5 linked regions of the Homo sapiens genome follow. The protein of the gene in region 5 interacts with the protein of the main gene of each other region in a biochemical or structural test. Each region holds a gene or a part of one and is shown on either strand. Other genes may lie near its edges. The genes, in order: FSD1, AFTPH, ACACB, CAMTA1 and PEX14.

The links.
Region 1: the proteins of PEX14 (region 5) and FSD1 interact in a test that uses a peptide from one of them, tested with the Homo sapiens proteins (one large-scale study listed by BioGRID and IntAct).
Region 2: the proteins of PEX14 (region 5) and AFTPH interact in a test that uses a peptide from one of them, tested with the Homo sapiens proteins (one large-scale study listed by BioGRID and IntAct).
Region 3: the proteins of PEX14 (region 5) and ACACB interact in a test that uses a peptide from one of them, tested with the Homo sapiens proteins (one large-scale study listed by BioGRID and IntAct).
Region 4: the proteins of PEX14 (region 5) and CAMTA1 interact in a test that uses a peptide from one of them, tested with the Homo sapiens proteins (one large-scale study listed by BioGRID and IntAct).

The regions. Positions count from the first base shown.
Region 1 is NC_000019.10:4,309,717-4,316,118, forward strand, and holds part of FSD1 (fibronectin type III and SPRY domain-containing protein 1), read left to right. Parts: intron 1-556; coding exon 557-579; intron 580-758; coding exon 759-880; intron 881-2,125; coding exon 2,126-2,335; intron 2,336-6,402. UniProt on the Homo sapiens protein: May be involved in microtubule organization and stabilization.
Region 2 is NC_000002.12:64,525,577-64,531,978, reverse strand, and holds part of AFTPH (aftiphilin), read right to left. Parts: intron 1-6,402. UniProt on the Homo sapiens protein: Component of clathrin-coated vesicles.
Region 3 is NC_000012.12:109,118,494-109,124,895, forward strand, and holds part of ACACB (acetyl-CoA carboxylase 2), read left to right. Parts: intron 1-160; exon of another isoform or gene 161-291; intron 292-5,652; exon of another isoform or gene 5,653-6,402. UniProt on the Homo sapiens protein: Mitochondrial enzyme that catalyzes the carboxylation of acetyl-CoA to malonyl-CoA and plays a central role in fatty acid metabolism.
Region 4 is NC_000001.11:7,732,686-7,737,738, forward strand, and holds part of CAMTA1 (calmodulin-binding transcription activator 1), read left to right. Parts: intron 1-3,658; coding exon 3,659-3,855; intron 3,856-4,245; coding exon 4,246-4,324; intron 4,325-4,569; coding exon 4,570-4,885; intron 4,886-5,053. UniProt on the Homo sapiens protein: Transcriptional activator.
Region 5 is NC_000001.11:10,628,049-10,634,105, forward strand, and holds the end of PEX14 (peroxisomal membrane protein PEX14), read left to right. Parts: intron 1-1,482; coding exon 1,483-1,939; 3' UTR 1,940-2,710; downstream 2,711-6,057. UniProt on the Homo sapiens protein: Component of the PEX13-PEX14 docking complex, a translocon channel that specifically mediates the import of peroxisomal cargo proteins bound to PEX5 receptor.

The sequences.
Region 1 (6,402 bases), on a different chromosome or scaffold from region 5:
GGCTAATACAGTGAAACCCTATCTCTGCTAAAAATACAAAAAATTAGCTGGGTGTGGTGGCGGGCGCCTGTAGTCCCAGCTACTCGGGAGGCTGAGGCAGGAGAATGGCGTGAACCCGGGAGGCGGAGCTTGCAGTGAGCCGAGATCGTGCCACTGCACTCCAGCCTGAACGACAGAGCAAGACTCCATCTCAAAAAAAAAAAAACACAAAAAATGAAACAAATCTTTGGGCCAGGCACGGTGGCTCATGCCTGTAATCCCAGCACTCTGGGAGGCTGAGGCAGGCGGATCACCTGAGGTCAGGAGTTTGAGACCAGTGTGGCCAACATGGCAAAACCCCATCTCTCTAAAAATACAAAAAATTGGCCGGGTGTGGTGGTGGGTGCTTGTAATCCCAGCTACTCAGGAGGCTGAGGCAGAATTGCTTGAACCCAGGAGGTGGAGGTTGCAGTGAGCCGAGATCTCTCCACTGCAATCCAGCCTGGGCAACAGAGCAAGACTCCGTCTCAAAAACAAAAAAAGAAATCTTTGAATGTTGTTCTGTTCCTCTCTCTAGGCTGCCAAGCAAATCAAAGATGGGTAAGACACTGGGGTCTGGCCCCCACCCCACTACCCTGCCCCTGGTGTGAAGACAGGGGCCACCTGGTGAGGGTGTCTCATCTCAGAGCCCTGGACGGGAGCCCTGGGGAGGGGCCCCCTCGCGCCACGGATGACCAGGCCTGGTCCCCCACGCAACGCCTGCCACCTCCTTCCTGCAGAGTGACCATGGCCCCTGCCTTCCGGCTATCATTGAAAGCGAAGGTCAGTGACAACATGAGTCACCTCATGGTGGACTTCGCGCAAGAGCGGCAGATGCTACAGGCACTCAAGTTCCTGCCTGGTGAGAGGGGCACGCACTAGAGGGCCAGGACTTCCGGGGAATGACCTGGGAGGCTAGGAGGCCCTGAAACAGGACCTGGAGTATGGTGGACGACCCGGTGTCTGAATTCCGCCTGGGGGAGGTGGAGCTCTGAGAATTCCACGCCCTGTGGGGGGTGGAGTTCTCATGGAGCCCCGCCCCTGGGTGGAGCCATGGGAAGACCCCACCCACTGTGTAGTGACATCCTGGGAAAACTCTGTACCCAGGGGTGGAACTGTGAGAATACCATGTCCTGTGGGGTTGGTTGAGTCCTCATGAGGCCCCGCCCTGGGGTGGAGCCATGAGAAGGTCAAACTCACCAGGTGGGAAAATCCTGTCCCCAGGGGTGGAGCCCTGAGAATAGCACGTCCTGTGGGGGTGGGGTATTCATCAAGTCCCGCCCATGGGTGGAGCCATCAGAAAGCCCCACCCACCAGGGGGTGAGGTCCTGGGAAAACTCTGTCCACAGGGGTGGAGCCCTGAGAATACCATGTCGTTGGGGGAGTGGAGTCCTCCCGAGACCTCCTCCCTGGATAGAGCCACGAGAAGGGCCTGCCCACCACATGGTAGCTCCTGGGAAAACCCTGTTTCCAGGGGTGGAGCCCTGAGAAGGCCACGTCCCCGAGGAGAAATGGACTGAGAACCCAGCCTGTCTATGATGCAGCCCCAAAGAAAGCCGCATCCCTCATTGGCAGAGATTTTGGAATAATTCTGCCTGTAAATGATGGAATCCCAAGAAAGCTCAGCCCTCCCCCAACCCACTGATGGAACCTTAGCGTCTCCATGGCCGGGCGCGGTGACTCACGCCTGGAATCCCAGCACTTTGGGAGGCCGAGGCGGGTGGATCACTTGAGGTCAGGAGTTCAAGACCAGCCTGGCCAACATGGAGAAACCCTGTCTCTACTAAAAATATAAAAAATTAGCCGGGCCATGGTGGCTCACGACTGTAATCCCAGCTACTCAGGAGGCTGAGGCAGGAGAATCGCTTGAACCAGGGAGTCGGAGGTTGCAGTGAGCCAAGATCGTGCCACTGCACTCCAGCCTGGGTGACAAGAGCAAGACTCTGTCTCTAAAAAAAAAAAAGTCTCCACCCTGCCAAACATGGAACCCCTTTGTGGCCATGCCCCCAAAATTGTCCAACATGTGGTTGGGCAGCCCTGCAGCAAGCCCCCTGCCCCCTGAACCAGGCACAGAATCCCGACCCCCTCTCCTTTCCGTCTTGGTCAGTGCCCAGCGCACCCGTGATCGACCTGGCTGAGTCCCTGGTGGCAGATAACTGTGTGACCCTGGTGTGGCGCATGCCGGATGAGGACAGCAAGATTGACCACTACGTGCTGGAGTACCGGCGGACCAACTTCGAGGGCCCGCCCCGCCTCAAGGAGGACCAGCCCTGGATGGTCATCGAGGGCATCCGGCAGACAGAGTACACCCTGACAGGTAAGGGCAGTGTGTGCCAGCTCCGCCCAGCTGTGAACAGCCACCTCTTCCAGCCTCCCGTCTCGCCATCAGTCACTGGGGGCCTTGGGGACGATCCCCAAAGCTCATGGGGTCTGGAAGCAGCCTGGGGAGGTGGATCAGAAATATGAGACAGTGGCCAGGCGCGGTGGCTCATGCCTGTAATCCCAGCACTTTGGGAGGCTGAAGCGGGTGGATCGCCTGAGGTCAGGAGTTCAAGACCAGCGTGGCCAACATGGTGAAACCCTATCTCTACTAAAAATACAAAAAAATTAGCCGGGCATGGTATCGGGCACCTGTAATCCCAGCTACTCAGGAGGCTAAGGCGGGAGAATTGCTTGAACCCGGAAGGTGGAGATGGCACTGAGCCGAGATCGCGCTATTGCACTCCAGCCTGGGCAACAAAAGCGAAACTCATCTCAAAAAAACAAAAAATAATAATAATGAATATAGGCCGGGCGCGGTAGCTCACGCCTGTAATCCCAGCACTTTGGGAGGCCGAGGCGGGCCGATCACAAGGTCAGGAGATCGAGACCATCCTGGCTAACACGGTGAAATACTGTATCTACTAAAAAAATACAAAAAATTAGCCGGGCGTGGCGGTGTGCACCTGTAGTCCCAGCTGCTCAGGAGGCTGAGGCAGGAGAATGGCGTGAACTCGGGAGGCGGAGCTTGCAGTGAGCCTAGATTGCGCCACTGCACTCCAGCCTGGGCGACAGAGCAAGACTCCGTCTCAAAAAATAAATAAATAAATAAATAAATAAATAAATAATAATAATGAATATATTTTTCCAGACATGGGATCCTGCCATTTCCCTAGGCTGGTCTCCAACCCCTGGCCTCAAGCAGTCCTGCCTCAGCCTCCCAAATAGCTGTGTACTGTCCTCGGAGCAGGGAACAAAGCAGACAATAATCTTTTCCCTCCTAGAGCTGGCGTTCTGGATTCACCCTCCAAGTATTTGGGGTCCTCCTTGGCAGTTACAAGAAATTGAAAGCTGGCCAGGCATGGTGGCTCAAGCCTGTGATACAGCACTTTGGGAGGCTGAGGCAAGAGGATTGCTTGAGGCCAGGAGCTGGAGACCAGCTTGGGTAACAAAGCAAGAGCCCATCTATAAAAAAAAAAAAAATTTAAAGTTACCTGAGCATGGTGGTCCCCGCTACCAAGGGAGGCTAAGGTGGGAGGATTGTTTGAGCCCAAGAATTGGAGGCTGCAGTGAGCCATGACTGCACCACCGCACTCCAGCCTGAGCAACAGAGCGAGACCCTGTCTCTACTAAACAAAGAGAGAAAAATAAAGAAAAAAAAAAACAAAACCCAAGGAATCCACCCAGCTGGTGGAGGTAGGGTCTGAAGGGGGAAAGCCTCCTGGGCCGGGCGTGGTGGCTCACACCTGTACTCCCAGCACTTTGGGAGGCTTAGGCGGGCGGATCTTGAAGTCACGAGATTGAGACCAGCCTGACCAACATGGTGAAACCCTGTCTCTACTAAAAATACAAAAATTAGCTGGGTGTGGTGGCGGGCGCCTGTAATCCCAGCTACTCGGGAGGCTGAGGCAGGAGAATTGCTTGAACCCAGGAAGCAGAAGTTGCAGTGAGCTGAGATTGCGCCACTGAGCTCCAGCCTGGTTACAGAGCGAGACTCCGTCTCAAAAAAAAAAAAAACAAAAAGCCATCCTGGCCAGGCGTGGTGGCTCACGCTGTAATCCCAGCACTTTGGGAGGCTGAGGTGGGTGGATCACTTGAGGTCAGGAGTTCAAGACCAGCCTGGCCAGCATGGTAAAACCCTGTCTCTACTAAAAATGCAAAAAAATTAGTGGGGCATGGTGGCGGATGCCTGTAGTCCCAGCTACTTGGGAGGCTGAGGAGTGAGAATCACTTCAGCCTGGGAGGCGGAGGCTGCAGTGAGCAGAGATCGCGCCACTGCACTCCAGCTTGGGCAACAGAGGGAGACTCCGTCTCAAAAAAAAAAAAGAAAAAAAAAGCCATCCTGATCCAGGGGAATCCCGGAGGGGCGGGGAGAGGCTGGCTGACGGGTTTAACTATCACCATTCACTAGCTGCTTTTGGGCTGTAATCAGCCAGCTAGTTATCTGTAATTAGCATACATGGTTAATCATGAGCACGCTAACTGCAGGGGGAAAAGTCATCAGCCTCAGGAGCTGCAAACAGCCATTGGCTTATCCTTTGCTTGAGAATCAAAATAAACACACCCCTTTTATTTGTTGTAAATAGGATTCCTCAAATCCCTCCTCCAAGTGCCCCCGCCTTTTGGTTTTGTTTTCTTGTAACTTTGTATTTTGAAATAATTATAGATCCACAGGAAGTTGCCAAAACAACTAAAACAAAAAGTACAGTGAGGACCCATGTAGTCAGCATAAAACCCGGGAAATGGACACGGGTGCAGTGGACTCACATTCTACCTTTTTTTTTTTTTTTTGAGATGGAGTCTCGCTTTGTCGCCCAGGCTGGAGTGCAGTGGCCTGATCTCGGCTCACCGCAACCTCCGCCTCCTGGGTTCAAGCAATTCTCCTGTCTCAGCCTCCCTAGTAACTGGGATTACAGGCGCCCACCACCATGCCTGGCTAATTTTTGTATTTTTAGTAGAGATGGGGTTTCTCCATGTTGACCAGGCTGGTCTCTAACTCCTGACCTCAGGTGATCCGCCTGCCTCGGCCTCCCAGTGCTGGGATGACAGGCGTGAGCCACCACGCCCCGCCACATTTTACCAGTTTTACACGCGCTCATTCGGGTGTTCCACACAGTTTTCTCCCATGTGTAAATTCATGTCACCACCAACACCACGGTCAAAGTATAGATCTCTTCTGTCACTACGAGGCTTCCAGGTGCTACGCTTTATAACCATGGCTTCCTGCCTTTGACAGACTTCCTAGTGAGTGAATTCCTCAGGGCAGAAAGTTGGATTCATGGAAAGCTGTGCAGGAGTAAGGATACCGATGAAAGCAGCTGCCTATGTGGTCGTTTGCAATCCACCTACTGTTTTGTTGATTGCTTGGAAAGATGGGAGGGTTTGGGTTATTTTCTTCTTTCTTTCCCTTTTTTCTTTTTTCTTTTTTTTGAGACAGAATCTCGCTCTGTCGCCCAAGCTGGAGTACAGTGGCTTGATCTCGGCTCTCTGCAACCTCTGCCTCCCAGGTTCAAGCGATTCTCCTGCCTCAACCTCCCAAGTAGCTTGGACTACAGGCACTATAGGCATGCGCCCCAACGCCTGGTTAATTTTTTTTTTTTTTTTTTTTTTTTTGAGACAGAGTCTCACTCTGTTGCCCAGGCTGGAGTGCAGTGGTGCTATCTCGGCTCACTGCAAGCTCCGCCTCCCGGGTTCACGCCATTCTCCTGCCTCAGCCTCCCAAGTAGCTGGGACTACAGGCGCCTGCCACCACGCCTGGCTAATTTTTTGTATTTTTAGTAGAGACGGGTTTTCACCGTGTTAGCCAGGATGGTCTTGATCTCCTGACCTTGTGATCCGCCTCCGTCGGCCTCCCAAAGTGCTGGGATTACAGGCGTGAGCCACCGTGCCTGGCCTTTTTTTTTTTTTTTTTTTTTGAGTTGCAGTCTCGCTCTGTCACCCAGGCTGGAGTGCAATGATGCGATCTTTGGCTCACTGCAACTTCTGCCTCCTGGGTTCAAGCAATTCTCCTGCCCCAGCCTCCCCAGTAGCTGGGATTACAGGCCCCCGCCACCACACCTGGCTAATTTTTGTGTTTTTAGTAGAGACGGGGTTTCACCTTATTGGCGAGGCTGGTCTCTTGGCCAGGCTGGTCTCGAACTCCTGACCTCAGGTGATCTGCCTGCCTCAGCCTCCCAAAGTGCTGGGATTATAGGTGTGAGCCACCGCGCCTAGCCAGTTTTTTGTATTTTTTAGTAGAGACAGAGTTTCACCATGCTGGCCAGGCTGGTCTCAAACTCCTGACCTTATGGGTTCCTCCTGCCTCCACCTCCCAGATGTGCTGGGATTACAGGCGTGAGCCACCGCACTTGGCCTTTTTTTTTTGAAAGACAGGTTCTTGCTATGTAGCACAGGCTGGAGTGCAGT
Region 2 (6,402 bases), on a different chromosome or scaffold from region 5:
AGAGGTTTAAATGTAATATGTAATTTTAAAAAATCTATGTATTCCTTTCTATAAGAGTTAAGTTAATCTTATATTTTTTCTCTAAATAAAAAGTGTCATTTCTAGAGCTGGGCTGTCCAACTGACAACAATTAAGCCATATATGCAATTAAAAATCTTCTAGTAGCCACATTTAAAAAGAAACAGATGAAATTTTATCTAACCCAAAGTATCCACAATATTATTTTAACATGTGACCAATGTAAAATATTACTGATATATTTCACATTAGTTTTTAAAATCTGCTGTGTATTTTACACTGAAATCACATCTTAATTTGGGCTAGTTTCATTTCAAGTGACACATTTGGCTAGTGGCTACTGTATTAGACAAGATAGTTCTAGAAGATAGTACTGTATTTTTTTATACTTAAATAGCTTGCTAACAGAATAGGTTAACTTAAAAAGAGCATGGCATTAAGCAAGATTAATCTTATATCAAATAAAGGCATATCTCAGGTTTAAATCATTCAAAAATTTTAAATTATGCAAACATTCCACACTGCTGAAAAGCCTAAATTCAAAATAAAAATTCCAGTAATTTAAAAACTGCATATTACTGATCATCTGAGGAAATAAGGGAGATGGGGACCCAACCACTGCTGGTAGGAGTGATTTTATTATAACCTCTTAGAAAGTAACAGGCTTTCCCTCTGACTTAATAACTCTACTTCTAAGATTTGATCCTATGAAAATAATCAACAATAAGGTCAAAGAATTATGTACAAACTTTTTCACCAAGATGCTCTTCTATGATGGTAAAATCTGGAAAACCCACATTAGTGGGAAATAGCAGAGATAACTTGAAAATGGCATTCTACACAGTCATTAAAAAGCATGGTTTTTTTCATTTTGTGGTGTTTTTTTTTTTTTTTTTTTTGAGATGAAGTCTCACTCTGTCACCCAGACTGGAGTGCAGTGGTGTGATCTAGGCTCACTGCAATCTCCACCTCCCGGGTTCAAGCAATTCTCTTGCCTCAGCCTCCCGAGTAGCTGGGATTACAAGTGCCTGACACCACGCCTGGCTAATTTTTGTATTTTTAGTAGAGACGGGGTTTTACCATGTTGGCCAGGCTGGTCTCAAACTCCTGACCTCAAGTGATACTCCCGCCTCGGCCTCCCAAAGTGCTGGGATTACAGGTGTGAGCCACCACACCCAGCCAAAAAGCATGTTTTAAGGAAAATTTAGTAACATGGAGAAATGCTCACAATTTAATAAGTAAAAGAAAGATCAACGCAATATGATTCATATGTATATGTATGACATGCTCACATATCCACAGTAAAAATAAAACAGGAAGAAAACCAAAATATTAACAGTTTTCTTTTTGTAGTATGATGACCAGTGATATTTTTCTTCTATTATCCCTCTTAACATGTATTTATTGAGTGTTACTTTGTGCCAGGCATTAAAACAGAAGGGTTCCTGCCATCATGGGCACACCCATTTTCTTTCTACTTTTTTTCCACATTTTCCCAAATTTTCTATAATAAGCACATTATTTTTTCATAATTTTAATAACTGGAAAAACATAATATGATGTAGATAATGATTTGGGTAAATCAGTTGCCAGGGGACATTTTTGGGTGAACTGGGGAAGAATCTGAATATGGCCTTGAATATTAGTTTAGATGACTAAACTGACTTAAAACAAAAAAAACTACAAAACACTACAACAAGTCTTCATTTTGGTAAAAAGTACACATATATATTAAAATGTGTAGGAAAATATGCATTATTATATAAACTGTAACAGTGAGGGATTTGCTTTTTTTTGTTGTTGTTGAGACGGAGCCTCACTCTGTTGTCCAGGCTGGGGTGCAATGGCATGATCTTGGCTCACTGCAACCTCCACCTCTCAGGTTCAAGTGATTCTCCTGTCTCAGTCTCCTCAGTAGCCAGGATTACAGGCGGCCGCCACCATGCCTGGCTAATTTTTCTATATTTTTAGAAGAGACGGGGTTTCACCATGTTGGCCAGGCTGGTCTCCAACTCCAAACCTCAAGTGATATGCCCGCCTTGGCCTCCCAAGGTGCTGGGATTACATGCGTGAGCCACTGCGCCTGGCTGAGGGATTTTTTTAAAGTAATTTTTCCAGCCTGGGCAACATAACAAGGCCCTGTCTCTACTACTAATAAAAACAATTAGCCAGGCATGGTGGTGTGCGCCCGTGGTCCCAGCTATTTAGGAGGCTGAGGCAGGAAGACTGCCTGAGCCCAGGAGGTCTGTGCTGCAGTGAGCCATGATCACTCCACTGTACTCCAGCCTGGGTGACACAGTGAGACTCTGTCTCAAAAAAAAAAAAAAGTGATTTGTTTTTTTTTGCTTGTCTATTTTCTATGATGCTCCTGTATGCCTCTGCAATAAGACTATTTTAAAAAATTTAAATATGTATACACCCACTATTTACTGAGCATCTATTACATACAAAACTGTGGTAGAACTGAGTAAAAGGAGTCACAACCTTAAAGAAACTTACAGCTAATTAAGGAGAATAATACAAGAGAACAGCAAAAATAATGCAAGATAGAATATAAACATCACTGAAGTAAAATGTGGCTACCAAGATTCTAAGAAAAAGATCACACTTGATTGGGAAGAGAAGGAATGGTGAAAAAAAAAAAACTTCAAAAAGGAGAAAATTTGAAATAGGAAGGATTTAATTGACAGAGGAAATGGTAGTCATTAAAGATAAAGCATGGGGCCCCTATCAAGGAACAGTAAGACACATAATAAAATATGGTTAGAACACAGGATATATGAAGGGTACAGGCAGTAAGCTGGAAACATAGGTTGCAAGGGCCTTGAATTTTCAGAAGGGAGTGCCTCTGTAAGCTTTCTGAGTTTAAAAATGAGGGAATTATTGCAGATTCCAATTCAAGAAACTGTCCTACCACTTCTCATCTCTACTGCTACCATCTTGGTTCATGCCACTACCATCTCTTCTTAACTCTACCAGCACAATTCTCTCCTGACTCTGCTTCTATTCTTACATTCCACTCCTATAGTCTATTTTCTATATAACAGCTAGACAGATCCTTTTACAACATAAATTATCTTACACCTTTACTCAAAAATCCTGCAATGACTTACCATCTCCCACAGTAAAAAGCCTAAGTCATTAGAATTTCTGTAAGGACCCTAAAACACTGCCCCTCTCACCCTCTAACTCTGATCACAATTTGTACTACTCTTCTACTTGTTCACCCTATTCTATCCACCCCAGACTTCTCTGCCACAATTTCTTGACTATTCCAGGCATACTTCTGTCTCTACCACTCTTCTTATTTGCTTCCCCTTCTTCAGGTTTAAGCCTTCTCTGACTCCACTCTATATAAAACAGCAAGCCCCACCAACCTCCCTTACTACTGGCTCAAAGCAAAAAATTCACCACTCCCTATCCCCCAAAACTGATTCCATTTTTCTGATGATACTTAACATCATCTGCCATTATTGCTATTGCTTATTTTATTGCTATTTGCTTATTTGTCCCAAATATGTACACAAATGTGTGAGTACATACATATATACATAAAGAAACTGAAGCTGTAGGAGGGCAGATTTTTTTTCTTGTTTGCTCATTTCAGTATCCCCAGCACCTAGAACAGGGCCGGACAAATAGCAGGTGCTCAATAGATACTTGTTTTATGAATGAAAGGAAGAAGATAACATGCATGGTGTCAGTAGATATTTAATTGAAATGGTTTATGGTATACTGTAAATATTTACATAAATAGAACCTACAGTAAATTAATTCTCATTTACTGTGTAATTTTCCGATGGGAATTATTCACAAATACAGTGCTAGTAAATTAACCTTTAATTAATTAGCAATCTATCTTTGCAAGGTTTATCTTCAAGTTAGCTATTTGGAACAAGGGTGACAGTGACTGACAACCATAGGATGGAGTCTTAAATCATTATTTCCCTCTTCTTCTCAATTATCCCAAATCAATAAGCAGTGATTCCCCACCTCCTTTCTTCCTCCCCACTTAGTTCTGACCTTTTCCCTTTTCTTGGGAATAGGTCTAATCCACAGACCTATGAGCCCCTACCCTAGAAGGGAAAGGCCAGAAATAGACACTAGGAGTGTGACAAAGGGCTGTTAAATGGTTGCCAGCAATAGGGAAGAGTCCAGGCAAGGGAAGTTAATGCAGAGGAATCTGGAGAGGCAAACAATTCTTAATTAAAAACATTTTTTTAACTTAGAAGCTCCTTGTATTTTAAAAGAAAGTCAACACAAAATAATACTAACTCCTTTCCTGTCCTTTTTTTAAATATACAATGCTGAAAGAAGAGTGATACTTTATATATGTTTTAAAGTTAAATACCTAAACTTTTAATTTCTTTTTTTTTTTTTGAGATGATGTTTTGCTCTTGTTGCCCAGGCTGGAGTGCACTGGCATGATCTCAGCTCACTGCAACCTCCGCCTCCCGGGTTCAAGCGATTCCCCTGCCTCAGTCTCCCGAATAGCTGGGATTATAGGCATGTGCCACCACACCCGGCTAATTTTGTATTTTCAGTAGAGACGGGGTTTCTCCATGTTGGTCAGGCTGGTTTTGAACTCCCGACCTCAGGTGATCTGCCCACCCCGGTCTCCCAAAGTGCTGGGATTACAGGTGTGAGCCACCATGCCCGGCCTTTAAACTTTTAATTTCATTGTGAAGAACTTCATGCAAACCTTAGGGAGAAAAAAGCCATAATGAATGAGCCAGTAACCATCACCCAGGTGTGTTAAATCTTAATCTCTTAACAAGTCAACTTCGGATTTTTTTTAAGGATATAAAGATATGTTTGTAAACCCATGGGCCCCTCCTAGATCCTTCATCCCTCTCAAGTTCTCCAAAGGTCACTTTTAGTCTGACTTGGTGTTTATCATTCCCATGCATGTTGTTATACTTTTGCTACATATTGCACAAATCACAGACAATACATAGTATAGTTTTGCATGAGACTATATAAATGGTCTAGCAAACGGATCTGTCACTTAACAGCTGTTTGACCTAAGGCAAGTTACTTAGTATCTGTGTGCCTCAGTTTCCTCTCTGAAAAATGAGGGATACTACTACTTACTGCCTTACAGGTTGTTGTGTGGATTGAGTTAGTACACTGTATATAAAGCATTTAGAAAACTATCTTGCTCATAGGAAGCAATATATATGAGCAACATATATACTGCTCATGTGTTAGCAATTATCATATAAAGCTGCAAAAGAACTTGTGACTATATCTGATATATGCACAAACTGAGAAAATGATTAGCAAAATGAGATATGTAAAATCCATACAATGCCAGATTTTCAAAATAGTGTAAAAACTAAAAATACTTATAAAGTTCCGGCTAGAAAGGTTCACTATTCTACTTAAAAAGGAATTGAAAGTGCTAAGAATAGAGGGAAAAACCTTTATTTTTTAATCTACAAAGTGTAGGTAACATTAAATTAGAATATAAACATTTTATTTAAATAATTTATGATGATTAAAAAATATCTAAATACTTAGCGGCCTCCTTTTATGAGATTTGGGGGAAGGGTTGGGAGAGAAGGGGCAATCCCTTAATGAGAAGCTATTCAAAGACTTTGCCTGCTGAGGAAAGCACTTTAGATTTCACACAAAATAAAACATTATTTGGTACTCAAATGTCACTACATTTCTGAACTAGTTTTTCACTAAATGTAAGCAGAACAAATGAAAATGTAAAATGATGTTTTATGATATGATTCACCCACACTATACAATTTTCATAACGAAAACTGGATTCGGCAAGATGTATCAAGGCTATTAAGGACATATTATCCTTGTTGTGATACGGGATTATTTTTTAACAGTCTCTAGGTCAAAAGATCAGCAAACATTAAAACTTAAATGCCCTACATATTATGTGAATTGTAGTGGATTTTTTTCCAGAGGTTTTTGAAGATTTAAAAATATATGTGTACTTTGAAGATCAACTGATATATCTAATTTAATCCACGGAGGAACAACTAGAGCTAATGAATATCTGCTAGGTGCCATTTACTGGGCTAGATGTTTTACACAAGATCTGTCTTTTAATCCATGTGAAATATCTTTATGAACAAAATTTAGGAGACTACCACAGATACTTTGTTTAAACAAATATACCTCTGCGAAGTGTTAAAAATGACTACTAAAAAAGCCAACATTTAAACTGGTAAAGCATATAAAATGTACGTGACTGTGTTAATTATATTAACATAATAATGTTGAAACATTTGTTGTCCCTAGAGTTTAGCATATATTTTAATGTCTAAGAGGTTAACTGAAAGCAACAATTAAGTGTAGCATCAAAGATAAACTCTGTGTCTCCCCTCCACCAAATAAAATCCTCGGAATAGGAGGTGG
Region 3 (6,402 bases), on a different chromosome or scaffold from region 5:
ACCCCTGCCTCCCAGGTTCAAGCAATTCCTCAGTCTCAGTCTCCCGAGTAGCTGGGATTGCAGGCAAGCACTACCACGCCCAGCTAATTTTTGTATTTTTAGTAGAGATGGGGTTTTGCCATGTTGGCCAGGCTGGTCTCGAACTCCTGACCTCAAGTGATCTGCTCACCTTGGCCTCCCAAAGTGCTGGGATTACGGGCATGAGCCACTGCACCCGGCCTGGAATACCTTGTTCTCATGCTTCCTCTGAATTTGTGATTCAGTGACTTGTTACTTCAAAGTAGAGTTCACCTGTACCCAGGGAAACCAGGAAACAGAGTTAGAAATATTGCATTTGATCGGAAAAATGTATGCACATTTCACATCCTATCCTAATAGATCTCTCTGTTTGCAGTGATAATAGTAAATTTATGACCGTAGAGTAAGGTGATTTTCTAGGAAGATAGACCGTGTTCATTTATTCCAGGAATCCAGGGATCCTTGTATCAGAGAATCCAGGCTGGGCACAGCAGAGAAACCAAGGTATTGATTATTGGGTAGTTGGCATACCCCAGGTATGCCATAATAATTATGGGATCTCACATAATTTTGAGGACAATCCTAGGAAGGAGATTTTATTTATTCCATTCCACAGGCCAGGAAACCAAGGTTCAGAGAATTTCCATGATGGGCTCAGGCCAATCAGATAACAAATGGCAAAGCCTCCACCCAAGTCTGCTGTACTCCAGAAGTCCTGCTCTCTGGGCTCATACCTTAGCCACTCTGACCCTTGCTGGGGCCCCAGAAAACAACTACACATAGAAAAGGTCTCTTCAGGCCAGACACAGTGGCTCACGCCTGTAATCCCAGCACTTTGGGAGGCTGAGGAGCTAGATCACTTGAGGTCAGGAGTTTGAGACCAACCTGGCCAACATGGTGAAACCCTTTCTCTACTAAAAATACAAAAATTAGCTGGGTGTGGTGGCTAGTGCCTGTAAACCCAGCGACTTGGGAGGCTGAGGTAGGAGAATCACTTGAACACAGGAGGTGGAGCTTGCCGTGAACCGAGATGGTGCCACCGCACTCCAGCCTGGGCAACAGAGCAAGACTCTGTCTCAAAAAAAAAAAAAAAATGATTTTGAGACAGGGCTGGGTGGCTCACGCCTATAATCCCAGCACTTTGGGAGGCTGAGGCAGGCAGATCACTTGAGGTCAGGAGTTCAAGGCCAGCCTGACCAACATGGCAAAACCCTGTCTCTACTAAAAATACAAAAATTAGCCAGTTATGGTGGTGCGCCTGTAATCCCAGCTACCTGGGAGGCTGAGGCAGGAGAATCGCTTGAAACTGGGAACCAGACGTTGCAGCAAGCTGAGATCGCGCCACTGCACTCTAGCCTGGGCGACAGAGCGAGACTCCATCTCAGAAGAAAAAAAAAAAGGATTAAAGGATTTTCCACCACTCCTGTTGAACTAATTAAGCTCCATATTTTTAAATTAAATAATGAGTGAAGGTGATATCAGAGGACAACTTGAACACACTCTCCTTTCTATTTAGAAGCAAATCAGCTGCAGACTTCAATACTAGCTATTATAGAATAATCAGTTGTTGGACATGCCCCTCCCAACTGACCTAGAAGGCTTTCTCTGCTGTGTTATAAGGAAGGCTTCGGTCTTTTATTTCCATACTCCCCACAAAGTGAGGCTTTTGGAGCTCTTCTGATATGGAGAGCTGCCCATGCAAGGTGGAAACAGGCCTCCAGGGCCAATCAGTTTGGGAAACACCAGGCTGCCTGTGGTTTACAGCAGGACTTCTCAGAGCCTTTACTATGCTAAATGCAGTGGGACTCTCCAAGATGTGACATTGGGATTTGGCCCTAGAAATGTTATTTTTTGGCAAGGGTGGGGACCATCTTTCAGGATTGGTATTCATAGCCACCTCTTGCAAAACATGGAACCGTTTCATTCCATGCCTTCCTCATCTCCTTGCAGGATCCTGGGAGGCAGGACCATGGAGTGGATGAGGTTCACAGGCTCGAGCTCTTGAGCAGGGGGCAAGGGGTGTGTGTGTGCATGTGTGTATGCATGCATGTGTGTGTGTATGTGTGTGTGTGTAAATAGAGCACTGTCTCCCAGGGTTCTGGATGAATTTGAACAGGGAGAAAGTAGAATTGATTCAGTGAGATCTGCTAACAGGCTGTTGCACTAGCTCAGCCTTGGAGTGAGGCAATGGTGGGCGTAGGGGAAGGGATGAAGAAAACACACCCACACACGTGTGCCACACACGTGCACACCTGGAGCTGGAGGGCCCAGCCCGGGGCCCAGCTCTGCCACTCACTGATGTGACTCTGAACAACAGACTTTCTCTCTGTGCCTCATCTTATCATTTTTGTGAACATTTAAAGAGATAACACACACAAAGTGCACAGCATAAGACTCAGTGTGTAGGAGGTGCTCAACAAACATCAGCTTTCTTTTTTATTTTTTTGAGACATAGTCTTGCTCTGTTGCCCAGGCTGGGGTGCAGTGGCGTGATCTCAGCTAACTGCAACCTCCACCTCCCAGGTTCAAGCGATTCTCCTGCCTCAGCCTCCCAAGTAGCTGGGACCACAGGTGCATATCACCACACTCGGCTAATTTTTGTATTTTTAGTAGAAACAGGGTTTCACCATGTTGGCCAGGCTGGTCTCGAACTCCTGACCTCAAGTGATCTGCCCGCCTAGGCCTCCCAAAGTGCTGGGATTACAGGCATGAGAGACCACACCTGCCAGCTTTCATTCTTATTCAACATGCTTTTATGGGTTCCTTGAGGGACTACTATATGCCTCCTAGTGTATACTGGAGTTACAAAAGAACCCTATTTTCAGAGTTGCAAATAGACTGGGGAAGGGGTCGGGGGAGATGAAGTCAGAAATTGATGATAAATCTGTGCCCCTCTGGGTTTTAAGCCTTGCCTGCTCTCACAGATCTTACCTTCTAGTGGGGGACACTGGTAGATGTGTAATAATGACCCACATAACTACAACCTATGATGAGTGCCAGGAGGAAGAGATCAGGGAACTGTGGGGCATAGAGCAAGAGCATGGTGTTCCATGGCATCTCTCTGGTGGCCCCTGATACAGCAGTATGAGGGAGCAGCCAGCAGGGGTTCAACAGCCGTGCAGATGCCTGTGCCCAGGGCCTCACCTGGACACTCCCAGCCCCAAGGACTCAGTGGAGCAGGAGGATTCCCCAGGTAGGCAGCAGGGGTGGGGGTGGCACAGACACACCTGAGCTGGGTGCAGGCCTCCAGCAAGTGTTCACTGACCCTGACGCTTCTGTGTGCTAGGCACTGTGCTGGAGAGCCCAGAGCAAGACAGAGCCACTCCTTGCCCTTAGGAAGCTTCTATTCCAGTGGAGAAGAGGCATAAACTCATTGGTGAATGCAGAGAGTCAGGTCAGCACGTGATGAATGGCACGTGTCCTACAGAATAAGACCACTGAGTATCAGGGTGGGTTTGAGGTGGGGACACTGAAGCCAACCATCAGAAAAAGAGCAAGAGATAACCATGCAAAGGACAGAAGTGGGGGCAGGGAAGGGAAGAACATTCCAGAACATTCCAGGCAGCATGTGCAGAGGAACGTAGAGGGGTCAGTGTGGCAGAGGCCGGTTTGCCAGGGCCATGTAGACCATGGAAAGGGGTGCAGTGAGCAATCATTGAAAAGGTGAAATTCAGTTTATCTGCTTACTACCCGGGTGAGTGACTTTGCGTCACTTCAACTTCTCGAACCCAGAACTTCCTCATCAATAAAACGAGGCTTCCCCTGCTACTGGTCTCACAAGGTGGAATGAGACAATGATTATAAAATGCTTCATATAGGCCAGGTATGGTGGTTCATGCCTGTAATCCCAGTGCTTTGGGAGGCCAAGGCGGGAGGATTGCTTGAGTCCCTGTCTGTATAAAATATAAAAAGTTTCGCTGGGCGTGGTGGCACATGCCTGTAATCCCAGTGCTTTGGGAGGCCGAGGAGGGGGATTGCTTGAGCCCAGGAATTCAAGGCTGCAATGAGCTATGATTGTGCCACTGCACTCCAGCCTAGGCGCCAGAGTCAGACATTGTCTCAAAAAAAAAAAAAAAAAAAAAAAAAGATGCTGAATACAGAGCCTAGCACAAATTAGTACTCATAAGTATTAGCTATTAATATTCAGGTTTCAGTCAGCTGGTGGGTACTTGCATTGTATTTTATGAACTTTTTAACTTTTTGGTATAGGAAAAAAAGTTGACCTGTTTTTTTTTAACACCTTCAGAAGCAGAGTAAATAGCACAGTGGTCCCCCAATGCATTCATCAGCCAGCTTCAATAACCATTGCCTTTCTGCCCTTCTAGTTTCATCTTCCTATACCCATTTTCCCTATATTATTCCCCCAACATTTTATTATAAAAAAATTTAAGCTGGGTGCAGTGGCTCATGCCTGTAATCCCAGCACTTTGGGGGCCAAAGTGGGCGGATCACGAGGTCAGGAGATCGAGACCATCCTGGCTAACATGGTGAAACCCCGTCTCTACTAAAAATACAAAAAATTAGCCGGGCGTGGTGGCAGGTGCCTGTAGTCCCAGCTACTCAGGAGGTTGAGGCAGGAGAATGGCATGAACCCAGGAGGCGGAGCTTGCAGTGAGCCGAGATCGCACCACTGCACTCCAGCCTGGGCGACAGAGCGAGACTCCATCTCAAAAAAAAAAAAAAAATTTTTAAACATACAAGTTGAAAGAATTTTACAGTGGGTGCCCATATACCCCTGATTAGATTCTGCCATTACCATTTTTCTGTATTTGTCACCTGTAAATTGCAGATATCAGTGTCTTTATCCTTGAATACTTCAACATGCATGTCATTAATTAGAGCTCCAGAGTTTTTTTTGTTTGTTTGTTTATTTGTTTGTTTTAAGAGACAGGGTCTTAGGCCGAGCGTGGTGGCTCACATCTGTAATTCCAGCACTTTGGGAGGCCGAGGCGGGCAGATCACTTGAGGCCAGGAGTTTAAGACCAGCCTGGCCAACATGGAAAAACGCCCATCTCTACAAAAAATACAAAAATTAGCCAGGCCTGGTGGCATGCACCTGTAATCCCAACTACTCAGGAGGCTGAGGCAGGAGAATCTTTTGAACCTGGGAGGCAGAGGTTGCATTGAGCCAAGATTGTGCCACTACACTCCAGCCTGGGTGACAGAGTGAGACCCTGTCTCAAAAAAAAGAAAAGAGACAGGGTCTCACTCTGTCGCCCAGGCTGGAGTGCAGTGGCACAATCTCGGCTCACTTGCAGCCTCTACTACCCTGGGCTCCCATCTCAGCCTCCAGAGTAGCTGGGACTACAGGGACACACCACCACGCCTGGCTAATTTTTTTTTTTTAATTTTTATTTTTTAGGTAACAGAGTTTGCCATGTTGCTCGGGCTGGTCTTGAACTCCTGGGCTCAAGCGATCCTCCTGCCTTGGCCTCCCAAAGTGCTGGGATTATAGATGTGAGCCACTGCATCTGGCCCCCAGACTATTTTCAAGCAATTCTCACAGCTAGATGTCACACTGTTTTGCCCGTAATACTTTAGCACACATTTCTAAAAGACACAAGTTTTTTTTTTAAACCATTGCCATAATTATATCTATCTAACAGAATGAATGATAATTCCTTAATCTAGTACCTAGTTCATGCTGACTGTCCTCCAGGTGGCTCAAAGATGTCTTTGAATGGTTTTATTCAAATCAGGACCCACAGGGTTTCTCTTAAGTCTCCTCATCTGTAATAATCAGCAACTCCCTTTATTAAATGCCAGTTACTTATTGAAACTGGGTCATTTGTCCCGTAGAATTTTCCATATTCTGGATTTGGCTGATTGCATCTTCCAAGTGTCATCTAACATGTTCTTCTATACCTATAAATAAGTACTAGGTCAAGAGGCTTGAATCAATTCAGGTGCAGATCCTTAGCAGGAATACTTTGAAGGTGTTTTTCTGTTTTCTCTTGCATCACGTCAAGAACATAAAGTTCAGTTACCCCACTTTTAGTGATTTTTGTTCATTAGTGAGTTTAGGGTATCAGTCTGACCTCCGTCGTAAAGTTCCCTATCACCCTCTTGCCGAATGACTTTACTGCCTGCTGATGAGCAAAGCCCAGATTATTGTTTCGTTACTATAGTGATTTTCTACTTCCGTCAATCTTTCTGTGCTTATTAGCTCTTGTTGTTTTTTGTTGTTGTTGTTGTTGTTTCTGGTTTTGTTTGTTTGTTTTGAGACAGGGTCTCTCTCTGTCATCCAGGCTAGAGTGCAGTGGCACAATCTTGGCTCACTGCAACCTCAACTTGTCAGGTTCAAGCGATCCTCCTGCCTCAGCCTCTTGAGTAGCTGGGACCACAGGCGCTCGCCACCATGCCTGGCTAATTTTATGTATTTTT
Region 4 (5,053 bases), 2.9 Mb from region 5:
TGCTGCTGATGCGGTCCCTGTATTCAGGCAGAAGGCCTGAGGGAGTACTTTACGGTACCTGTGCTTTTAAGCATTATAATCTGTGCAGTATGGAAGAAGCCTTGGAATGTGGAGCTTCTCAGTTGTTTACCCCCCTAATCCTTAAGTTATCTCTATTAATCTCAGAATTCACTACTAAATTACAGGGCAGTGGGAATTAAGGACAACCAATTGAAAAATAGAGGCTGGCTGGGCATGGTGGCTCACGCCTATAATCCCAGCGCTGTAGGAGGCCAAGACGGGAGGATTGCTTGAGCCCAGGAGTTCACGACCAGCCTGAGCAACATACTGAGACCCTGTCTCTATAGAAAAAAAAAATTTTTTTTAATTAGCCAGGCGTGGTGGGACATCCCTGTGGTCCCAGCTACTCAGGAGGCTGAAGTGGGAGGATCACTTGAGCCCGGGAGGTTGAGGCTGCAGTGAGCCATGATCACTCCACTGCACTCTGACCTGGTCAACAGAATAAGACCCTGTCTCAAAAAGAAGAAGAAGAAAAAAAAAGGCCAGATGGTGACTTAGACCTGCTAGGGTTCAGAATTAATTTAGAATCTTCCTACTTTCTATTCTGTATTTTATCCCTATCTTAAGTGTAGGTATAAAACATAATTGAATTCAGTAATTCATAAGCCTTTTATAAACTCAAGGTCAGTATGAAAAGAGCCCAGAGAAAGTGTTTATGTAATGATTCAGTGTAGAATGACATTATACATTACAGCCTCTTTCACAAACTTTCTGTAAGTTCCATAAAGAATGTATGATATTGCCAAGTACGAGTAAATTACCAAACATTGTTTCAGAGTCCCATTGGTCTTGAAGGCTTTATATACATTTCATTTAGGAAGTTCATTTTTGGGAAGTCTCCCAGGGAGAAATTATTTCTCAGGGGACCCTAGAGATAAATTTAAAGGAACTGATGGTATTTCTTATCTCCACTACTCAGTCGTTGCAAAAAAAACCTCAAATAATGCCCCCTCTTTCTCTTCAAGACAAATGATGATTTCCTTTACACAGTTAAGTTTTTAGGTGAATATTTTTGGTTTTATGAACCTCATAAATATCAAGTTTAGTTATATTTTAAATAATAGGTTAAAAGAACATCATATGCCACACCCAAAAGGCTAGCCTCCTTCCTCCCCGTGTTTTCATATTGCTCCCCTGTCTTCAGAAATCAGCAGGAAAGAAACAACTTGGCACGCAGTAGAATATTATTAAGGCTAAGATAGGCTTCTTTTTTTTCTTTTTGACACGAAGTCTTGCTCTGTCGCCCAGGTGCAGTGCAGTGACACAATCTTGGCTCACTGCAGCCTCCGCCTCCGAGGTTCAAGCGATTCTCCAGCCTCAGCCTCCCAAGTAGCTGGGATTACAGGCATGGGCCACCACGCCTGGCTAATTTTGTATTTTTAGTAGAGACGGGGTTTCCCCACCTTGGTCAGACTGGTCTCGAACTCCCAACCTCAGGTGATCCGCCTGCCTCGGCCTCCCAAAGTGCTGGGATTACAGACATAAGCCACCGTGCCCGGCCGATAGTACTAAGTTTTATAAAAGAAGTAATCATTGTTTAATTTACCTCATGGCTCACATAAGAGATCTCCTTAAAATACTTTTCCTTTCACCAACAAAAGTGGCATAAAAGGAATGGTATGTAATGTCATTTTAAAGCTCAGCCACTACGCAGCTGGCTCAAACGCTATGCAACTGGCCTAGAATCTCATCCCATGTTAACCACTACTGAATATCCTTTCATCAGTTTAAGTTGCCTTCAGTAAATGTCCGTGTTTGCCATGCGGGATAGAGACATGACTGTTTTTGTTTAATACAAAAAAAAAAAAATTCCCTTTTCGTTCACTCTGGCCATTTCCATGTGCTCATGAATGTGTCTTGTGTGTGTAGAATGGCTGTGCCTTGGCCTTTTGAGTCAAGGTCAGTTTGCGGCATGTTGGGATCACCTAACTCTGCTCCTGTAGGTGTTTTTACAGCTTTGATGAGGCTGAGATAACAATCCCATCATCTGCCTTTTTTATTTTGGGAGGCATTTTTTCCACATTTAAAAATAAAAATCAGCGAGGAGCCATAGTATTTCTGTAGTAAGTAAAGTTTATGGAGTTTATTGCCAGAAAAAAAAAGTACTTTTTAAGTAACACCAGAGATACAAATTAGCCTAGAGGTGCCATTTATTTGGGGGAGTGTTAAACATAAAACTGCTATCACAGAGACTCACATAAGCTGTTGAAGTTACTAACTTTCATTTTATTTTTCTTCCATTACAACTGGTTCATAGGAAGTAACCCATGTGGTTAAAATTAGTAAACTTCTCTTTCCTATAGCCCTTATTGTTATTAATAACACTTAAATTTCAGGATCTCTAAATGCTTTTCTCAGTATTCTTTTTACTTTACATAAAGGACTGGATTATTGGATACTTCTAGTCATTTCTTTAAGGAAAAAACAGTCCGCATCTAAGTGATCTAATTCTCCTTCAGAAGAAGCAAGAGGCTGGGCGCGGTGGCTCATGCCAGGAACCTAGCACTTGGGAGGCTGAGGCAGGCAGATCACTTGAGATCGGGTGTTCGAGACCAGCCTGGCCAACATGGTGAAACCCTATCTCCGCTAAAAATACAAAAATTAGCTAGAAATTGCTTGAACCTAGGAAGCAGAGGTTGGAATGAGCCAAGATCGTGCCACTGCACTCCAGCCTGGGTGACAGAGCGAGACTCTGTCTCAAAAAAAAAAAAAAAGAAAAAAGAAGAAGAAGAAAGAGAGTGAAAGAGCCGCTATACCCGCCAGTGGAAACATTAGGAAAGCTACTCTGCTCCACTGTCTCACAACAGTTTACTGCCTACAGGAAGGCTAGAACCACTTTTTTTTGTTTAAGGCTGTGTACACTTTCCCCAAGACGAATCGGCATGAAGTTCCTAATCAGAGTGTCAGCCCTAATAGATAGACTCGTGTCTGTAGAGCTGTGGACTTCAGAGAAGTGCTACTGAGCTGAAGCTAAGCACATTCTAGTCTCAATTTCATGGATGGTTCTTGGGGGTTTGGGTTTTTTGTTGTTGTTGTTGTTTTTTGAGACAAGGTCTTGCTCTGTCACCCAGGCTGGAATGCAGTGGCGCGATCACAGCTCACTGTAGCCTCAACCTCTCCAGGCTCAGGTGATCTTCCCACCTCAGCCTCCCGAGTAGCTGGGATTACAGGCACCCACCACCACGCCTGGCTAATTTTTGTATTTTTAGTAGAGATGGGGTTAGGGTTAGGGTTGGCCAGGCTGGTCTCGAACTCCTGACCACAAGAGATCTGCCCGCCTCAGCCTCCCAAAGTGCTGGGATTTCAGGCATGAGCCACTGTGCGCAGCCTAAATTTTGTACTTTTTGTAGAGACAGGGTCTCACCATGTTGCCCAGGCTGGTCTCAAACTCCCGAGCAATCCTCCCACCTCGGCCTCCCAAAGTGCTAGGATTTCAGGCATGATCCAGCATGCCCAGCCAATGTTTCTTTATTTTCAGTGTTTTATGTTTTCCGTTGTGAGTTTCTAATCGTAAAGCATTTGTTTCCCCTACATCGAAGCGCTGATGGGGTCGAGGGCCTTTAGTCCTGAGGTCGTAACGTGCGCTTTTTTGTGACAGTGTGCTTCTGGGACTGGGGCCTTGGGGAGCTGCTTTGAGAGCCGTGTGGTCGTGGTATGCGAGAAGATGATGAGCCGAGCCTGCTGGGCGAAGTCCAAGCACTTGATCCACTCAAAGACTTTCCGCGGAATGACCCTACTCCACCTGGCCGCTGCCCAGGGCTATGCCACCCTAATCCAGACCCTCATCAAATGGCGGTAAGGCTGTGGTGCAGCTGGCTGGGGGTCAGCCTCGCACATCCTCGCTCACATTCTTCCTGAGCACTGCCACCCGTGGAAGAAATCTACCCATTCAGTCCACTTTATAGCCGGCGAGCAAAGGGCTTTGTCCTTGGACAGTTTCCAAGGGAGTTTTATAAACTTCTTCCCAAGAAATACCCAGAGAGATAAGAATTAAATGTTGGACTTGTCATTTTCTTTGGACCCCTAGCCAAATGGAGCGTCCACACTGCCCTGGGACTCTGTTTCTTCACCATGGGGATGTTATATACCCAGTTGGGTTTCATCTTGGTGGGGTTTTATAATATTCTGGTGTTTCCTTTTAACGGTGGTGAATAGTGTGGTAATTTCTGGTGCTCTCCCTTATAGTACAAAGCACGCGGATAGCATTGACCTGGAACTGGAAGTTGACCCCTTGAATGTGGACCACTTCTCCTGTACTCCTCTGGTAAGGAATGGATTCCTGTAGCCCCCCCTTGCTGTTCTTCCAGTCTGGCATAGGATTTGCCTGGTTCCCACCGTTGTCTCTTGCTGACACATGGCATGTTTCGGAGATACTTTGGGATGGGAATCTTCAATGGCCCCACCGAGATTGCCAGCAAGGACCAGTTTGTCAGTTGGCAGCAATGGCAAAAGTCAGGTCTGGTCTTGACCTCTGATTGAGAACGCTTGCTGTGTCTCCCTGTCTTCTAGATGTGGGCGTGTGCCCTAGGGCACTTGGAAGCTGCCGTCGTGCTGTACAAGTGGGACCGTCGGGCCATCTCGATTCCCGACTCTCTAGGAAGGCTGCCTTTGGGAATTGCCAGGTCACGGGGTCATGTGAAATTAGCAGAGTGTCTGGAGCACCTGCAGAGAGATGAGCAGGCTCAGCTGGGACAGAACCCCAGAATCCACTGTCCTGCAAGCGAAGAGCCCAGCACAGAGAGCTGGATGGCCCAGTGGCACAGCGAAGCCATCAGCTCTCCAGAAATACCCAAGGGAGTCACTGTTATTGCAAGCACCAACCCAGGTAAGAATTCAGAATCATGACATCTCAGAGCTTGACAGAGATCCCGTTTGCTTTCATGCAGCTGCCCTCAGCAGAGTCCATAGGATAGTCACATACATTTCAGTTTTTTTGTTAATGTTTCTGATTTTTCTTTAAGAATGCCTAGTGCTGCCCCCTCCCCCAGTACAG
Region 5 (6,057 bases):
CCTCAGCCTCCCGAGTAGCTGGGATTACAGGCGCCCGCCACCACTCCCGGCTAATTTTTGTATTTTTAGTAGAGGTGGGATTTTGCTATGTTGGCCAGGCTGGTCTTGAATTCCCGACCTCAGGTCATCTGCCCATGGCCTCCCAAAGTGCTGGGATTACAGGTGTGAGCCACTGTGCCTGGACTGTTCTGGTTTTTTAAAACTGAAAGTCCAGTGTCCAGGAGCCACTCTGTCCTGGGAGCCGCAACTGTGGGCCATCCTCCTGGGCTGATGCCCTAGTGGGCCTTGCATGGGGTGTCCTTGTTTCCCTGCTGGGCTGGATTTGTTGGGAGCTGGGTGAGTGGGAGGGTGCAGGTGGGCTTTTCACTAGGGTCCAGGATGGGGTGCAGAGGGGTCTTGCGGCTCCAGCCAGAAGACCCCATTTTCCAAGCCACCCAACTTCCCGGTTTTCCCTGAGGAAAAGAACATGTCCTGGAAAGAGATGTGGCGCTGGCAGAGGCCAGAGCATTGTCATTAGGAGACAGCCTCCATTTTCCCTAACCGAGACCAGTGCCTTGGAGGCTGGGGATGGAGGCCAGGCCATCGGGTGACCGTGGGGGCCAAGAAAACTGCACATGGAATTTCTTGTTAGCGTTTAGGATGCTGGTGAATAAAGCAGGCCGTGGTGTGTGCCCCACTCAAGTGGGGTCTGTGGTGGGAGAGTTGTGTCTAAGGCCCCTGCTGGGGGACAGCCCTGCGGGCAGGGCTTTGTCCTCTTGGCTCAGGCAGAGATGGGCCTGCCTGTTGGAGAGCTCTGTCTCTGAGCCGTTGCCAAGTGGACCTGACCTCCCAGGTCCCTCCTGGAATTGGCTTTGGTTTGGGCTGGCTGCTGGCCCAGGAACGGAGTACGGAGCAGAAGGGAGAGCTGCCTCTTCTGCGTTGAAAGTGTTGAGCTCAGAAGTTTTCTAGCAAAGGGCATAACCACCGCCCTTTTGGTTCTGATGTGTCTGACCCCCTGCCAGTGGCCAGGGCTCCCTGCCTCCACCTTTTGCTCAGGCCATAGACAAATGAGGACTGTGGCTCAGGTGTCTGGAGTCCCCAGTCATAGCCCTTTTGGACTCCTCACCAACCTGTCTCTCTCCTGGCCACTGGGTTGGAGGCAGGGATGGTGCTGAGGATCAGAAGGAAGCAGGCTCCCGCATGGCAGGCAGGCCCCACTTGGCTTCCAGCAGCTGCCCAGGCAGATGGGCCTTGCCCAGGGTGGGGGCCCGGGGGGACCCTGGGCTGTCTGTGGGGGCACAGGACCCGCTTGGCATCTATCTCAGCTGTAGGATCTTTGCTCCTGAAAGGAGGGGTGGAAGGGCTCCATCCTGTCCCTTGCCCAGTGTCCCTGGGGGAGCAGCTCACCATCGCCGAGCCCTTGCGGGTCAGGGAAGGCGTGGCCCTTCGAAGGGGGGCGTCCTGAATGCCGCCACCAACCTCCTCCCCTTCTTCTCCCTCTAGGAGGCAGTTCCCTCCATCCCCATCAGCCCCGAAGATCCCCTCCTGGCAGATCCCAGTCAAGTCACCGTCACCCTCCAGCCCTGCGGCCGTGAACCACCACAGCAGCAGCGACATCTCACCTGTCAGCAACGAGTCCACGTCGTCCTCGCCTGGGAAGGAGGGCCACAGCCCCGAGGGCTCCACGGTCACCTACCACTTGCTGGGCCCCCAGGAGGAAGGCGAGGGGGTGGTGGACGTCAAGGGCCAGGTGCGGATGGAGGTGCAAGGCGAGGAGGAGAAGAGGGAGGACAAGGAGGACGAGGAGGATGAGGAGGATGATGATGTGAGCCATGTGGACGAGGAGGACTGCCTGGGGGTGCAGAGGGAGGACCGCCGGGGCGGGGATGGGCAGATCAACGAGCAGGTGGAGAAGCTGCGGCGGCCCGAGGGCGCCAGCAACGAGAGTGAGCGGGACTAGGGCTGCGCCTGCTGCCTCCAGCCCTGAGGATGGCATCTAGTGTGCCCGTGCGTGGCCATACCCTGCCTCCCTCTCTGGCCCTGGGAGGGCAGCTTGGAGCCCAGGTAGGGGGCAGAGCTGTCCTCAGCTGCACTGCGGCCTGGTGGCAGTGTGGGGAGTCACACTTCTGTCCACCTGGCCTCCTCTCGCCTGGCCGCCAGCCCCAGCCCCAGCCCCAGCCCCAGGCCCAGCTGCCTTTGGCTTTGATCTCAAGTCAGGCTGAAGGCAGCGAAGCCTCGGGGCCCAAGCCCCTCCCCAGCCCCCTCTCCCGGACAGACGCCTTGCCCAGGGTGTGTTTGCTGAGTGTCTTGACTACCGTGACACCACGCATGGCCAGAGCTAGCGTCCCTACTGCCTCCCGACTCCTCAGTGGAGGAGGAGCTGCGGTCCCTCTGGTGTCTGCCATCCCCCTCCCTCCCTGGGCCCGGCCCTGGACCCGTCAGGTGCCTGTCCCCAGCCCCAACCCCACTCATGCCCCGTCGTCCTCCCAGACAAATGAAACCACGCTGCGCTTCCGATGCCCCCGCTTGCCGTGTAATGGTTCAGCTAATCCCATGGCGAGATGGGGGCTCACTCCGGAGGAGGAGCCAGGCAGCAGGGCCTTCCTGACCAACAGCCAGCTCTGTCCTTCCCCCCAGGAAACACATGTTCATTTGTGTGATCATGTATAGACCTCAGAACGGAAGATAGGACTGTATATAATTGTAATAAATACCAGTTGCCACTATTTAATTTCTGCCTGTGGCTCCCTGTCTGCTCATGGCACCCTGGGCCCGGGGGTTCGTCTCAGCGCAGCCTCCAGCTGGTGAAGTGTGGGTGAGGGCCCATGGGCAGCTTCCGCCGCTGCTGAGCCAGAAGCAGAGGCCTTGTTCAGGTCCAGTGGCTGCCGGAGGGCGACACTTTGCTGACCGCAGGAGGATCAGGGACCTCGTGTGACTGTATATAGACCTCATGTGGAGTGAGGAGCTCTTCCTTAAATGGACGAATGCTTCCCGGGGAGGGGAGTGTGGCGTCCTCTCTGGCTCCCTGTCTCCCCTGGCTCTTTTCCTCCCAGTCTCCCTTTCCCCTTCACAGAGCATTTGGCTAAAACCAGAAGAGCAGAGCCATGGGCTCCTTGAGGGGCGCTCCTATTCCCTGCAGCCCCCAAGTGTCAGGACCAGGCTCGTGGGCCGCAGGCGCCGTGATGTCCATGTGCCTGTGTGGACACAAGGGCTTCGGAAATAGGAAGCCCTGGGCAGTCCCTGCGGGTGCGACCTCCATGTACCTGCTCCGCCCTGCCCCTCCCTCTGCTGGGGAGGGAGGAGGCCATGTGGTTGGGCTCAGAGACTTGGTGTTGGGGCTGTTTTGTCTCAGATGTTTCGCTTTTGGCCCCTGCAGCAAACCCTTCTTAATGCTGGGAACACAGGTCCTGCTAAAGTGACGGGTTTCCAGGCCCGGGCCGCCCCCGCTCACTCAAGAGTCCCTGGGACCCGGCTGCCTCCACCTGCTGGAGGGACCCCTGGAGCAGGTCCACCCCCACCCACTGGAGGGTCCCTGGGAGCAGGTCTGCCCCTACCCACTGGAGGGTCCCCAGTACTGGGCTGCACCCACCCACTGGAGGGTCACCGGGAGCAGGCTGAACCCACCTGCTGGAGGGTCCAGCCCCAATCTGGTTTCTGGCCTGCGGGTTGTGTCTTTCATGCTTGTCACCTGGAAGGACACTCCTGCATTTCCTGTTTCCAGCTACGTGTTCCCCAGGGACGAGCGGAGCCCAGTTCAGTGTCACACTATGGCTTGTTCTCCTTTTTCCCTGGCCTCCTTGCTGTCCCTGAAGAAGCAGGTGTCTCAATTCCCAGGGGCTGCCACCCTCACCTGGACGAGGGGGTCCTGCCTACCAGGACCCCAGGAGTCCCAGTGTCTGGGAGCTGCGGTGGGCAGACAGGTGGGCCAGGCCTCGGCCTGGCTCTGGGGACAGTGACTGCCTGTGTCCCACCCTCAGACCTGCTGGGTCACAGGCCTGCATCTGGACGGATCGGTTCCTGAGGAGTCCCCGCCCCCTGTCATTTGCTGCCTGGTGGCCATTGTCTGTAACTTCTCAGAGGTCCCTCCTCCAGTGGGACTAGAAAGGGAGACCAGAGGGCAGATACCCTGGGAAGGAAGGGAAGCCAGGGCTGTGGGGTTGGTGCTGTGGAAGTGAAGTGCCAGCTTCCCGGCTCCATTTCTCCCTGGAGAGCTGGGGCCACCAAGAAAGGGATTCCCTGGGGCTTCACTATCCCTGGGGTGGGGGCAATGGAGACCTCACAGGGCAAGCACTCTCCATCCTGGGGGTCAGTGGGCTGGCACATCCCTGAGGCTCAAGCGTGGAGGAGAAACGGACAGAAACCTGGGCCCGGAGGCCTTTTGCCCCTGTGGGTCCTGAGCACCGAATTCGGCTTTTGAGGACAGAGTCTGGCGTGATTTCAGGGAGAGAAAAACCCCTCCCCAAAACGGCAGGAGTGCTGCCTAATAAAGCCAGCTGCTGGACCAGGGAAAACAGCCCTTTGAAAAAAAAAAGCCTTTCATTAGAAAAATAATGCATTTCATCCAAATAAGGTAAAAATATTCGGAATGGGGCAGAAGTAAGCAGCAGGCAGCGCCTGTCAGGCCCTTTCTGGAAGGGAGAAGATTATTAAACTCAATTACAATGTATTTTTATAAAGTGTCTTTTAGGAAAGAACTAGCCCCATGCTTGGAGGCCGGGGGACAGCTGCCCTGACCTCACCCCGGACCAGCTCCCTCGGTCCCCGGGGTCTGTCCCGGCTCCTCCGGTAACTCGCTGGTTCTGCCTTGGGCAGGGGCATCTACTTTGGGAAGGACAGGGGACCTCCCTTGGTGTTTGCGACTCGCAGGACAGGCCAGGAGGCGGGGGAGTTGCCTTCGGGGGATGGTAGGGTCTCCGCCCGCCTGGGGCTGCCAAGTCCTTCAAAAGCCAAGGCTCCCAGAGCCAGTCCCATCCCAGGACCCTGGCTGGGACAGGGAGCGCCTGGGTCAGGGGAAGGGGCTGCTGAGTTTGTACCCACAGGTGGGATGTGTAGCAAAGCCAATCCACATAGAAGGGGACAGAGATGCGAGAACCTGCCACCTGCCCATCGGCTCCCTGTGTGCCCACAGAGTCTCTTTCCCTCTTTCTTTGTTTTTAATAAACGCATCTGAGCAAGCTGTGTTCATCTTTCGGGGCCCTCACACCCAGGTACAGGTGGAAGAGTTTTCTAGAAGGTTTCGCTTCTGCCCTCCTGGCGGCCCAGCCAGGAGCATGGAGGCGCTGGGTCTCCGGCCTTGCCCCAGACCCCTCCCTCTCCAGGTGACCACCCTGTCCCTGCCCCAGACCCCAGGAGGGAAGGGGAGGGCAAGCAGGGGCCATTCTTCAATGGCCAGACATCTCTGTCCCCAGGAGTTGACTTAATTTGTCTTTTGTTTAAACTGGTTTCTGCCAAGGCACCAAAAGAAGAGGTCAGAGCCTCCAGACAGGGCAGGCACGGAGGCGCCAGTGAGACCTGCATGCAGGTGGGAGCTCCAGCCTCAGGTGAGGTGCGCTCCTGAGGTGTAGCACCCAGGTAGACCTGGAGGGCCTGGCCGCTCTTCCTCCTCCTGCTCCTTTGCTGTGTACAGGGGCTTCCCACCTAGGGACTGGCCACCGCCTGGCCAGGGGGAGCCACGCCCGAGCTGGCACATGCTGACATGCATGTGCGTGCACATGTGTGTGGCACCCTCACACTCACGCAGGGCCCAGTGGGCCCTTTTCAAGAGGTCCCCATGTCCTCCTCCAACACGTGCCCATTGCAGGCCACAGCTCAGACCACAGCCTTGGCACTCTCTTTAATGCAAAACGGGTCTGAAATCTCGCCTGGCATTGAGGGATGACTACCTGAATCATGAATAAACCTTAATAATTTACTTTCATTGAGCACTTTATAGTTTGTGTTCTCCTAGAAGAAGAAATGAGATACATGATATGTTCATCAGAAAGATGCCTGAAACCTTTCCTTGCTCCACGACAGATACTGGAAGGACCTTCTTTCAAGCGACAGGGTCATGGCTTTAAACACCACCATGACACTTGG